Linked DNA regions of Homo sapiens. The protein of the gene in region 2 purifies or fractionates together with the protein of the main gene of each other region. This does not show direct contact. Each region holds a gene or a part of one and is shown on either strand. Other genes may lie near its edges. The genes, in order: GINS1 and CENATAC.

What was found.
Region 1: the proteins of CENATAC (region 2) and GINS1 purify together in Homo sapiens (affinity purification with mass spectrometry; 2 studies listed by BioGRID and IntAct, with this or other methods). This does not show direct contact.

Annotation. Positions count from the first base shown.
Region 1 is NC_000020.11:25,445,576-25,449,264, reverse strand, and holds the end of GINS1 (DNA replication complex GINS protein PSF1), read right to left. Parts: intron 3,343-3,689; coding exon 3,274-3,342; 3' UTR 702-3,273; downstream 1-701. UniProt on the Homo sapiens protein: Required for correct functioning of the GINS complex, a complex that plays an essential role in the initiation of DNA replication, and progression of DNA replication forks.
Region 2 is NC_000011.10:119,000,977-119,008,274, reverse strand, and holds part of CENATAC (centrosomal AT-AC splicing factor), read right to left. Parts: intron 6,663-7,298; exon of another isoform or gene 6,450-6,662; intron 5,323-6,449; exon of another isoform or gene 4,682-5,322; intron 1-4,681. UniProt on the Homo sapiens protein: Component of the minor spliceosome that promotes splicing of a specific, rare minor intron subtype. Negative regulator of centrosome duplication.

The DNA.
Region 1 (3,689 bases), on a different chromosome or scaffold from region 2:
TGAAAACTCAATCGATCAATCAGCCACTGTAATTCACCAGACTAACAAACTAAAAGACAAAACCATCTCAACAGATGCAGAAAAAAGATATGACAAAATCCAGCATCCATTTCTGACTTTTAAAAAAATTCTCAGTAAACTAGGTGTATTAGTCGTCTTATGCTGCTAATAAAGACATACTGGAGAGTGGGTAATTTATAAAGGAAAGAGATTTAATTGACAGTTCCACATGGCTGGGGAGGCCTCACAATCACAGCATAAGGCAAATGGATAGGGACCAAAGTCACGTCTTACATGGTGGCAGGCAAAAGAGCATGTCCAGGGGAACTCCCATTTATAAAACCATCAGATCTCGTGAGACTTATTGACTAACACCAGAAAAGTATGGGGAAAACTACCCCCTTGATTCAATTATTTCACCTGGCCCTGCCCTTGACACATGGGAATTATTACAGTTCAAGTTGAGATTTGGGTAGGGACACAGCCAAACCATATCACTAGGAATAGGAAGGAACTTCCTACCCCAATAAAGGGCATCTACAAACAACTTAAGAGCTAACAAACATCATAATAGTGAAAGACTGTTTTCCTTCTTAGATCAGGAACAAGATAGGGGTGTCTTTGACCACATATATTTAGTACTCTACTGGAAGTTCTAACCAATGCCATCAGGCAAGAAAAAGAAATAAAAGGCATTCAGATTAGAAAGGAAGGAGTAAAACTCTTTATTCATAGAACACATGACTGTTGATGTAATTTACAAAAACACCATGAGAACTCACAGTTTAGCAAGGCTGAAGGATACAAGTTCAACATCAATTGTATTTCTATTTACTAGCAACAAGTGGTTAGAATTTGAAATTTTAAAATACCATTTAGCATCAAAACTATGAAATGCTGACATGGTAGACCTGTACACTGAAAACTACAAAAGATTATTAAGAGAAATAGAAGACAAAACATTAATACCTAGGAAGACAGACCTTGTTTATAGGCCAGAAGACTCAATATTATTAAGATGTCAATTCTCCCAACAGTTTTATATAAATTCAATGCAATCTCAATCAAGGTGCCCAACAGGGGTTTTTGTTGTTGTTGTTGTAGAAATTGACAAATTGATCCTAATTTCTTTTTGAGATAGAGTCTCACTTTGTCACCCAGGCTGGAGTACAGTGGTGTGATCTCAGCTCACTGCAGTCTTGACCTCTGGGGTTCAAGTGATCCTCCCACCTCAGCCTGCCGTGTAACTGTGACTACAGGCATGCACCACCACACCTGGCTAATTTTTTCTATTTTTTGTAGAGACGGAGTTTTGCCATAGGCCCGGGCTGGTCTGGAACTCCTGAGCTCAAGTGATCCACCCATCTAGGCCTCCCAAAGTTCTAGGATTACAGGCATAAGCCACCACACCCTGCCTGTTCCCAAATTTCACATCAAAAGCAAAGGACTTAACATAGCCAAAACAAATCTCAAAAAGAAATGTGGTACACTGGGCCAGCACCAAGGCTCACGCCTGTAATCCCAGCACATGGGGAGGACGAGGCAAGTGTATTGCTTTAGCTCAGGAGTTCAACACAGCCTGGCCAACACGGTGAAACCCCATCTCTACAAAAAATACAAACAACAGCAAAAATATGACACATTAATACTATCTGTTTCAAGAATTATTAGAAAATTACATACACTACATACAAATATGGTATTGGCATTCAGGAGAGAAAAACAGGTCAATGGAACAAAACAGAGTCCTGAAATAAACCCACATATACATTGACAACTACTTTTTAACAAAAATGCAAAGGTGATAGAGCAAAGGGCAGTCCTTTCAAAAAATGGTAGTGAAACAGCTGGATATCTATATTCCCAAGAAAAAGTGAAGGTGGATTGACACCTTGCACCATATAAAAAATTCATTCAAAATGGATCATAGGCTGGCCGCGGTGGCCCACACTTGTAATCCCAAAACTTTGGGAGGCCAAGGTGGGTCACTTGAGGTCAGGAGTTTGAAACCAGCCTGGCCAACATGGTAAAACTCTGTCTCTACTAAAAATACAAAAATTAGCCAGGCGTGGCGGCCTGTGCCTGTAATCCCAGCTACTTGGGAGGCTGAGACAAGAGAATCACTTGAACCCAGGGGATAGAGATTGCAGTGAGCCAAGATCACGCCACTGCACCCCAGCCTGGGTGACAGAACAAGACTCCATCTCAAAACAAAGAAACAAACGAAAAAACAAAACAAAACAAAAAAAAAAACGGGTCATAGACCAAAGTATAAAGCTTAAAATTATAACACTTCTAGAAGTAAAAAGGAAAAAAAATTGTGATCTTGGGATGGGAAAAGATTTCTCGGATGCAACACCCAAAGCATAAAAGAACAAACGAATAAACTGGATTTCATCAAAATTTAAAATGTCAGCTGTTTAAAACATACCATTAAAAGACAATCAACTCTTCATGTGACTTTTCAGTCAATCTGAATCTCAGGGAAAACTGTACAAAGTTCCTTCTCTAGCCCCAATTTCACTGTCCCCTTCCAAAGTGGTGATACTGGTGATCACCCCATAGCCACAAGCCACACCAGCCACCATGGTGGAAATGTGCAAAATCCATGTGTGTCCTTCCTTCCCAAATAGCCAGATGATAAATTAGTATGTCATTAAACATTATATATACTGAAAATTTCTACAGACCATCATCTTCACTTGCATGTGATTTGAAAATGTGTATCTCAGAAATTCAGCTCTCTAGCTTGTACAATACACATGACCAGAAAACAAGACACACAGGATCTACCTTCTTCCTGTCCAGCCAAGTGACTGCTTATTTAAGAGATTCAAATGTAACCATGTTTACTTTCATTTAAAAAACACACTGTAACAACTGTAGGAATGCTGTGATTACAGATACAGCTTATTAGAAAAAGGAGTAGGGGCCGGGTGCAGTGGCTCACGCCTGTGATCTCAACACTTTGAGAAGCTAAGGTGGGAGGACTGCTTGAGGCCAGGAGTTTGAGACCAGCTTGGGCAACATAGTGAGACAGTCTCTACAAAACAAAACCAAAACCAAAAAAGAGTAGGAAGAATAGTGTACAACATTAAAAAAAGAAAGTCCTTAATAGTTAGCAAATTATACTTCTTAGCCAAGTATTCTTAGTTATCTTAAACAATGTCTATAGCTTCTAAAATCAAAGAGGGAGGTGAAGGGAGTGGTGGAGAGAGTGAGTACAGAGGAGTCCATGAGTTGAGTGAAGCCTGGAAGTGCCTCGGCGCATGGTCATGACAGGATGTGCTCCAGGACTCCTTGTCTGATCAGCTGCTCACATTTCCATCGAGGTAAAAAGTGCTGAGGGGACAAGAAGGGATGGAGAAAGAGTAAAATAAATGATTGGGAAAGAATTTGAAATTATTTCTTGTATCATTAAAAAGTAGCACTGATTAGTTTTCAAACTCCAACAAGTAAGTAGTTGAAAGTTAAACTTAAGGGGCTGGGTACGGTGGCTCATGCCTGAAATCCCAGCACTTTAGGACACCAAGGTAGGCGGATCACCTGAGGTCGGGGGTTCAAGACCAGCCTAACCAACATGGAGAAACCGCGTCTCTACTAAAAAATACAAAGTTGGCCCAGGGGCAGTGGATCACGCCTATAATCCCAGCACTTTGGGAGGCCGAGGCGGGTGGATCACGAGGTCA
Region 2 (7,298 bases):
TGAGGGAACTCAGAGGCCGGTGCCGGTGCAGGTCCTTGGTGTGCTGAGCACCAGTCCCCTGGACCCACCGTTGTTTCTTTATACTTTGTCTCTGTGTCTTATTTCTTTTCTCCGTCTCTCATCCCACCCGACTAGAAATACCCACAGGTGTGGAGGGGCAGGCCACCCCTTCAATAAGTAAAATTTAAAAACAACAAAAAAGCCACTTAGCTACTACAGTCTAGATTTGATTCCCCAGCAACAGAATATCCCACAACTCACACTGGGGTCATCCAGTCCTTTTTGTTTCAGTGTTGTCCTTTTTGGTGTATGAAACAAGGACCTGAGAAGCTGGCTCTTTGGTCTTCCTTTTCTTTTCACTGTCTATGTAAGAAACCATCTAAATCTAAAAGTGCCTCCTCCTATCTTTACCAGTCAAATCAACCAAACCTTGGAATTGCCTTGTGTGTGTATGTTTGACAATTTACAAGGTTCAAAAGTAAAAATTAGGCTGGGCACAGTGGCTCATGCCTGTAATCTCAACACTTTGGGATGCCAAAGTGGAAGGACTGCTTGAGCCCAGGAGTTTGAGACCAGCTCAGGCAACATAGTGACCCTGTCTCTACAAAAAATACAGAAATAGCCAGGTGTGATGGTGCACACTTATAGCCCTAGATACTTGGAAGGCTGGGGTGGGAGGATTGCTTGAGCCTGGGAGGTTGAGGCTGTAGTGAGCTGTCATTGTATCATGGCACTCCAGCTTGGACAACAGAGCAAGACTCCATCTCAAAATAAATAAATAAATAAATAAAAAGGCCAGATTAGGTGGTTCACATCTGTAATCCCAGCACTTTGGGAGGCCGAGGTGGGCGGATCATGAGGTCAGGAGTTTGAGACCAGCCTGACCAACATGCTGAAACCCCATCTCTATTGAAAGTACAAAAATGAGCCGGGCGTGGTGGCACGTGCCTGTAATCCCACCTACTTAGCAGGCTGAGGCAGGAGAATCACTTGAACCTGGGAGGCGGAGGTTGCAGTGAGCCAAGATCATGTCATTGCACTCCAGCCTGGGTGACAGAGCGAGACTCTCTCCAAAAAAAAGAAACGAAAAGAAAACTATATTTAGGTTGCCGGTATCTCCTGGCCACTGGCTGCCACTACAGTTCATTTATCTGGAACCTGGGCTCCTGAAGATGCAGCACTGGAGCAGAGAGATGATGTTGACAGGGTGTCTTAGTCCATTTTCACACTGTTGATAAAGACATACCCAAGACTGGGTAATTTACAAAGAAAAAGAGGTTTAATAGACTCACACAGTTCCATGTGGCCGGGGAGGCCTTATAATCACAGCAGAAGGTGAAAGGCATGTCTCATGGTGGCAGGCCAGAGAGAATGAAAACCAAGTGAAAGGGGAAACCCCTTATAAAATCATCAGATCATGTGAGACTTATTACCATGAGAACAGCATGGGGGAAAACGCCCCCATGATTCAGTTATCTCCCACTGGGTCCCTCCCACAACGTGGGAATTATGGGAGCTACAGTCAAAAAAATTTGGGTGGGGACACAGCTAAACCATATCACAGAGGTTGATGAATGACCCAGTCACATTAGAAATAGGTGGACTAAGCCAGGCGCAGTGGCTCACGCCTGTAATCCCAGTACTTTGGGAGGCCGAGGCGGGTGGATCACGAGGTCAAGAGATCGAGACCATCCTGGCCAACACGGTGAAACCCCATCTCTACTAAAAATACAAAAATTAGGCCGGGCATGGTGGCTTACGCCTGTAATCCCAGACTTTGGGAGGCCGAGGCAGGCGGATCACGAGGTCAGGAGATCAAGACCATCCTGGCTAACAAGGTGAAACCCCGTCTCTACTAAAAATACAAAAAATTAGCCAGGCATGGTGGCGGGCGCCTGTAGTCCCAGCTACTCAGGGAGGCTGAGGCAGGAGAATGGCGTGAACCCAGGAGGCGGAGCTTGCAGTGAGCCGAGATCGTACCACTGCACTCCAGCTTGGGTGACAGAACAAGACTCCATCTCAAAAAAAAAAAAAAAGGTTGGGTGTGGTGGCCTGTGCCTGTAGTCCCAGCTACTCAAGAGAATCGCTTGAACCTGGGAGGCAGAGGTTGCAGTCAACTGAGATCACGCCACTGTACTCCAGCCTGGCGACAGAGCAAGATTCCATCTCAAAAAAAAAAAAAAAAAAAAAAAAAAAAAATCCTGCCTACTCTGAAGGCCAAGGCAGGAGGATTGCTTGAGCCCTCAGGAGTTTGAGGCTGCAGTGAGCCATGATTGTACCGCTGCACTCCAGTCTGGGTGACAGAGCAAGACCCCATCTCAAAAAAAAAAAAAAAAAAGCATCTCAAATTATTTAACCAAATGGACTAAGCACATAATAATAATGGACTGTACAGACTGCCAGGTTTCTTTCCTATACTTTGTGCGATTATCACCAGGAAGTTTCTCTCTGGGTCTCATAATCCACAACACCTGAGTGTATCACATGAGTGTGCAGGACAATGAAGACACAGTGGAACACAACTAGACTTTCTGTAGACTAACCTGGAAGGCAGGTCTCTAATTTCCAAACCAGAAGTTCCTGGAAACTGAGTTCAAGGAAATAGAAGAAACTGATTAAAAAAAAAAAATTACAGTGTGGTTGAAGTCCAGAAATTTCTAGGCAGCTGGCTGGGCACAGTGGCTTGTCTGTAGTCCCAGCACTTTGGGAGGCTGAGGTGGGAGGATTGCCTGAGACCAGGAGTTTGAGACCAGAGGAAAAGAAAATGACAATGTGGAATTGTAAAAAAAAAAAATTTTTTTTTTTTTTGAGACGGGGTCTCACTCTATGTCGCCAGGCTGGAGTGCAGTGGCATGATCTCGGCTCACTGCAAGCTCCACCTCCTGGGTTCACGCCATTCTCCTGCCTCAGCCTCCCAAGTAGCTGGGACTACACACACCCACCACCTCGTCTGGGTAATTTTTTGTATATTTAGTAGAGACGGGGTTTCACCGTGTTAGCCAGGATGGTCTCGATCTCCTGACCTCGTGATCTGCTGGCCTTGGCCTCCCAAAGTGCTGGGATTACAGGCATGAGCCATCGTGCCCGGCCAAAAATTTTTATTTATTTGAGGACCAGAGAGAAGTTTTGTGCTTTAGCAGACTCCTCCGTGTTTTCTTCTTTTCACCCTGTTCAAAGTTTCCAGGTATTGGCTTTTTTTTTCTTGCTGTTTTTGAGACAGGGTATTTTGCTCTGTTGCCCAGGCTAGAGTGCAGTGGTGTGATCACAGCTCACTCCTGCCTCAACCTTGTGAGCTTAAGCAATCCTCCTGCCTCAGCCTCCCCAGTAGCTAGCACTACAGGCAAATGTCACCATGCTTGGCTAATATAATTTTTTTTTTTTAGAGATGGGGTTTCACTATGTTGTTCAGGCTGGTCTTAAACTCCTGGGCTCAAATGATCCTCTGTCTCAGCCTCCAAAAGTGCTGGAATTACAGTCATGAGCCACTGCAACTGAATTGCCTTTTTTTTTTTAAAGAGACATTCTTGCTATGCTGCCCAGCTGGAGTGTAGTGGTGGGATCACAGCTCACTGCAGGTTCAACCTCCTGGGCTCAAGTGATCCCTCAGGCTCAGGTGATCCCCCTGCCTTAGCCTCCAGAGTAAGTAGGACTATAGGCTAGCCTCCAGAGTAGGTAGGACTATATGCCCAGCTAATCCAGATACCCTTTTTATTAAAAATCTGAAAATCAGGCTGGGACCAGTGGCTCACACCTGTAATTGCAGCACTTTGGGAGGACAAGGTGGGTGGATCATGAGGTCAGGAGTTCGAGACCAGCATGGCCAATATGGTGAAACCCCATCTCTACTAAAAATACAAAAATTAGCTGGGCATGGTGGCGCATGCCTATAGTCCCAGCTACTCGGGAGGCTGAGGCAGAAGAATCACTTGAACCCAGGAGGCGGAGGTTGCAGTAAGCTGAGATCGTGCCACTGCACTCCAGCCTGGGCAACAGAGCAAGACTCTGTCTCAAAAAAAAAAAATCTGAAAATCATTATGGTATGTCATCTACCCTTATTATAATGCTAAAATGATTTCTGATAAAATAGTTCCTAACTCAACTAGAAAACTATAAAGAATGAAAGAATGAGCAGAGTACTCATGATGCCTTTGAGTAAAATCGAAACATCATAGAGCGTGATCTAATTTCCAAATCAATAGGCAGTATTGTAACATTAAAGGAAAGCTATTCCAATCACTTAGAAATACTTGCTAAGTACTGCTTTTTACAGTTATGACAACTGTTTCTATGCATATGAACCAAGCAACCAAATATCTATAACCATGGAAATATCTGATTAGAAATATTTCTAATTTGGGCCGGGCTCGGTGGCTCACGCCTATAATCCCAGCACTTTGGGAGGCCAAGGCAGGCGGATCACCTGAGGTCGGGAGTTCGAGACCAGCCTGACCAATATGGTAAAACCCCATCTCTACTACAATTACAAAAATTAGCCAGGTGTGGTGGCATGCACCTGTAGTTCCAGCTACTCGGAAGGCTGAGGCAGGAGAATCGCTTGAACTCAGGAGGTGGAGGTTGCAGTGAGCCAAGATCATGCCACTCCAGCCTGGGCAACAGAACAAGACTCTGTCTCCCAAAAAAAAAAAAAAAAAAGAGAGAGAAATATTTCTAATTATTGGCCGGGTGCAGTGGCTCACGCCTGTAATCCCAGCACTTTGGGAAGCCAAGGTGGGTAGATCATTTGAGGTCAGGAGTTCGAGACCAGTTTGGCCAACATGGTGACACCCTATCTCTACGAAAAATACAAAAATCAGCCCCTTTTCACAAGATGGCACCAAAAGCTAAGAAGGAAGCTCCTGCCCCTCCTAAAGCCAAAGCAAGGCTCTGAAGGCCAAGAAGGCAGTGTTGAAAGGTGTCCACAGCCACAAAAAAAAGAAGATCCGCGTATCACTAGCCTTCTGGCGGCCCAAGACATTGCGACTCCGGAGGCAGTGCAAATATCTTAAGAGCACCCCCAGGAGAAACAAGCTTGACCACTATGCATCATCAAGTTTCCTCTGACCACTGAGTCTCCATGAAGAAGACAGAAGACACACGCACTTGTGTTCACTGTGAATGTTAAGCCACAGCACCAGAGAAGCTCTATGACACTGATGTGGCCAAGGTCAACACCCTGATTCGGCCTGATGGAGAGAAGGAACATGTTCGACTGGCTCCTGATTACAATGCTTTGGATGTTGCCAACAAAATAGGGATCATCTCAACTGAGTCCAGTTGGCTAATTCTAAATATATGTATATCTTTTCACCATTAAAAAAAAAATTATCAAGGCATGGTGGCGCATGCCTGTAATACCAGCTACTCAGGAGGCTGAGGCAGGAGAATTGCTTGAACCTGTGAGGCGGAGGTTGCAGTGAGCCGAGATCACGCAGCTGCCCTCCAGCCTGGACAACAGAGCGAGACTCCATCTTGAAAAAAAACCTGAAATATTTCTATTGGATTCTGAATACAAAATTTCGCATGGGAGAAATCTTACTTCTTATGCCTGTTACAGTATAATTCCCAAATGTACCATCAGAAAAAAAAAAAAAAACCAACAGCTTATTTTTAAAAGTATACATAGAAATCTTGTTTCTAGGCCGGGTGTGGTGGCTCATGCCTGTAATCCTAGCACTTTGGGAAGCCGAGTCAGGTGGATCACTTGAGGTCAGGAGTTCAAGACCAGCCTGGCCAACATGGTGAAACCCCATCTTTACTAAAATACAAAAATTAGTCAGGCGTAGTGGCACAAGCCTGTAATTCCACCTACTCTGGAAGCTGAGATGGGAGAACTGCTTGAACCTGGGAGGTGGAGGTTGCAGTGAGCTGAGATTGTGCCACTGCACTCCAGCCTGGGCAACAGAGTGAGACTGTCCAAAAAAAAAAAAAAAAATCTTTTTTCTATTCCTATCAACTCTAAACATTTTTACTGACCCACAAACTGGGTCACACCAACTGGTTACACTAACTGATATGTGATCAGTTTCTTTTTTTTTTTTTTTTTTTTTTTTGAGACAGAGTTTTGCTCTTGTTGCCCAGGCTGCAGTGCAATGGCATGATCTTGGCTCAGTACAATCTCTGCCTCCTGGGCTCAAGCGATTTTCCTGCCTCACCCTCCCGAGTAGCTGGGATTACAGGCACAAACCAACACGCCCAGCTATTTTTTGTATTTTTAGTAGGGATGGGGTTTCACCATGTTGACCAAGCTGGTCTCGAACTCCTGACCTCAAATGATCCTCCCACCTCGGCCTCCCAAAGTGCTGGGATTACAGGTGTCAGCCACTGAGCATGGCCATGTGATCAATTTCATTAACTTCTCTAAAAAAAAATTCGTATTTCTTTTTAGAGATGGGGTCTTGATACACTGCCCAGGATGGCCTCAAACTCCTGGGCTCAAGCTATCCTCTTACCTCAGCCTCCTGAGTAGCTAGGACTACAGGTGTGCACCACCACATCTGGCAGTTTCATTAGTTTCTTGATTATCCTTTAGGCATTCCTTTTTGAGAAAATAAGCAAATACAGTTGACTCTTGCACAGCACAAGTTTGAACTGCACGAGTTCACTTGAAAATTTTTTTGGAGATTTGCAACAATTTGAAAAAACTTGCAGATGAACCACATAGCCTAGAAATATGGAAAAAATTAAAAAGGTATGTCATGAATGCATAAAATATATGTAGATACTAGTCTTTTATGATTTACTACCATAAAATACACAAATCCAGGCTGAAACGGGAGAATCGCTTGAACCCGGGAGGCAGAGGTTGCAGTGAGCCGAGATCGCACCACTGTACTCCACCCTGGGTGACAAAGCAAAACTCCCTCTCCAAAAAAAAAAAGTTAAAATTTATCAAAACTTACACACAGAAACACAGACTGTACATGGTGACATTCGCGGTCAAGAGAAATGAAAATAAATGTAAAGATGCAATATTACATAACTGTATAAAATTATAATCCAAACTACAACTGTCACAATTTTGTAGCCACCTATTGCAGTGAACTCAAGTGTTGTATCTGCTTAAAACACAGTAATGCTGATCATCTTGTAAGCAGTTGTCTCACCAGTAAATTGCATATTACAGTAAAAGTGATCACTCATGGTTCCTGCATATTTTTCAGTAATGTCATACCATTAACCTCAAATAGTAACGTGGGACCTATAGGAGGTGCCACTAGTGATGCCTGAAGCACTCCAAAGAAGCAGAGAAAAGTCATGACATTACAAGAAAAAGCTGAATTGTTTGATATGTACTGTAG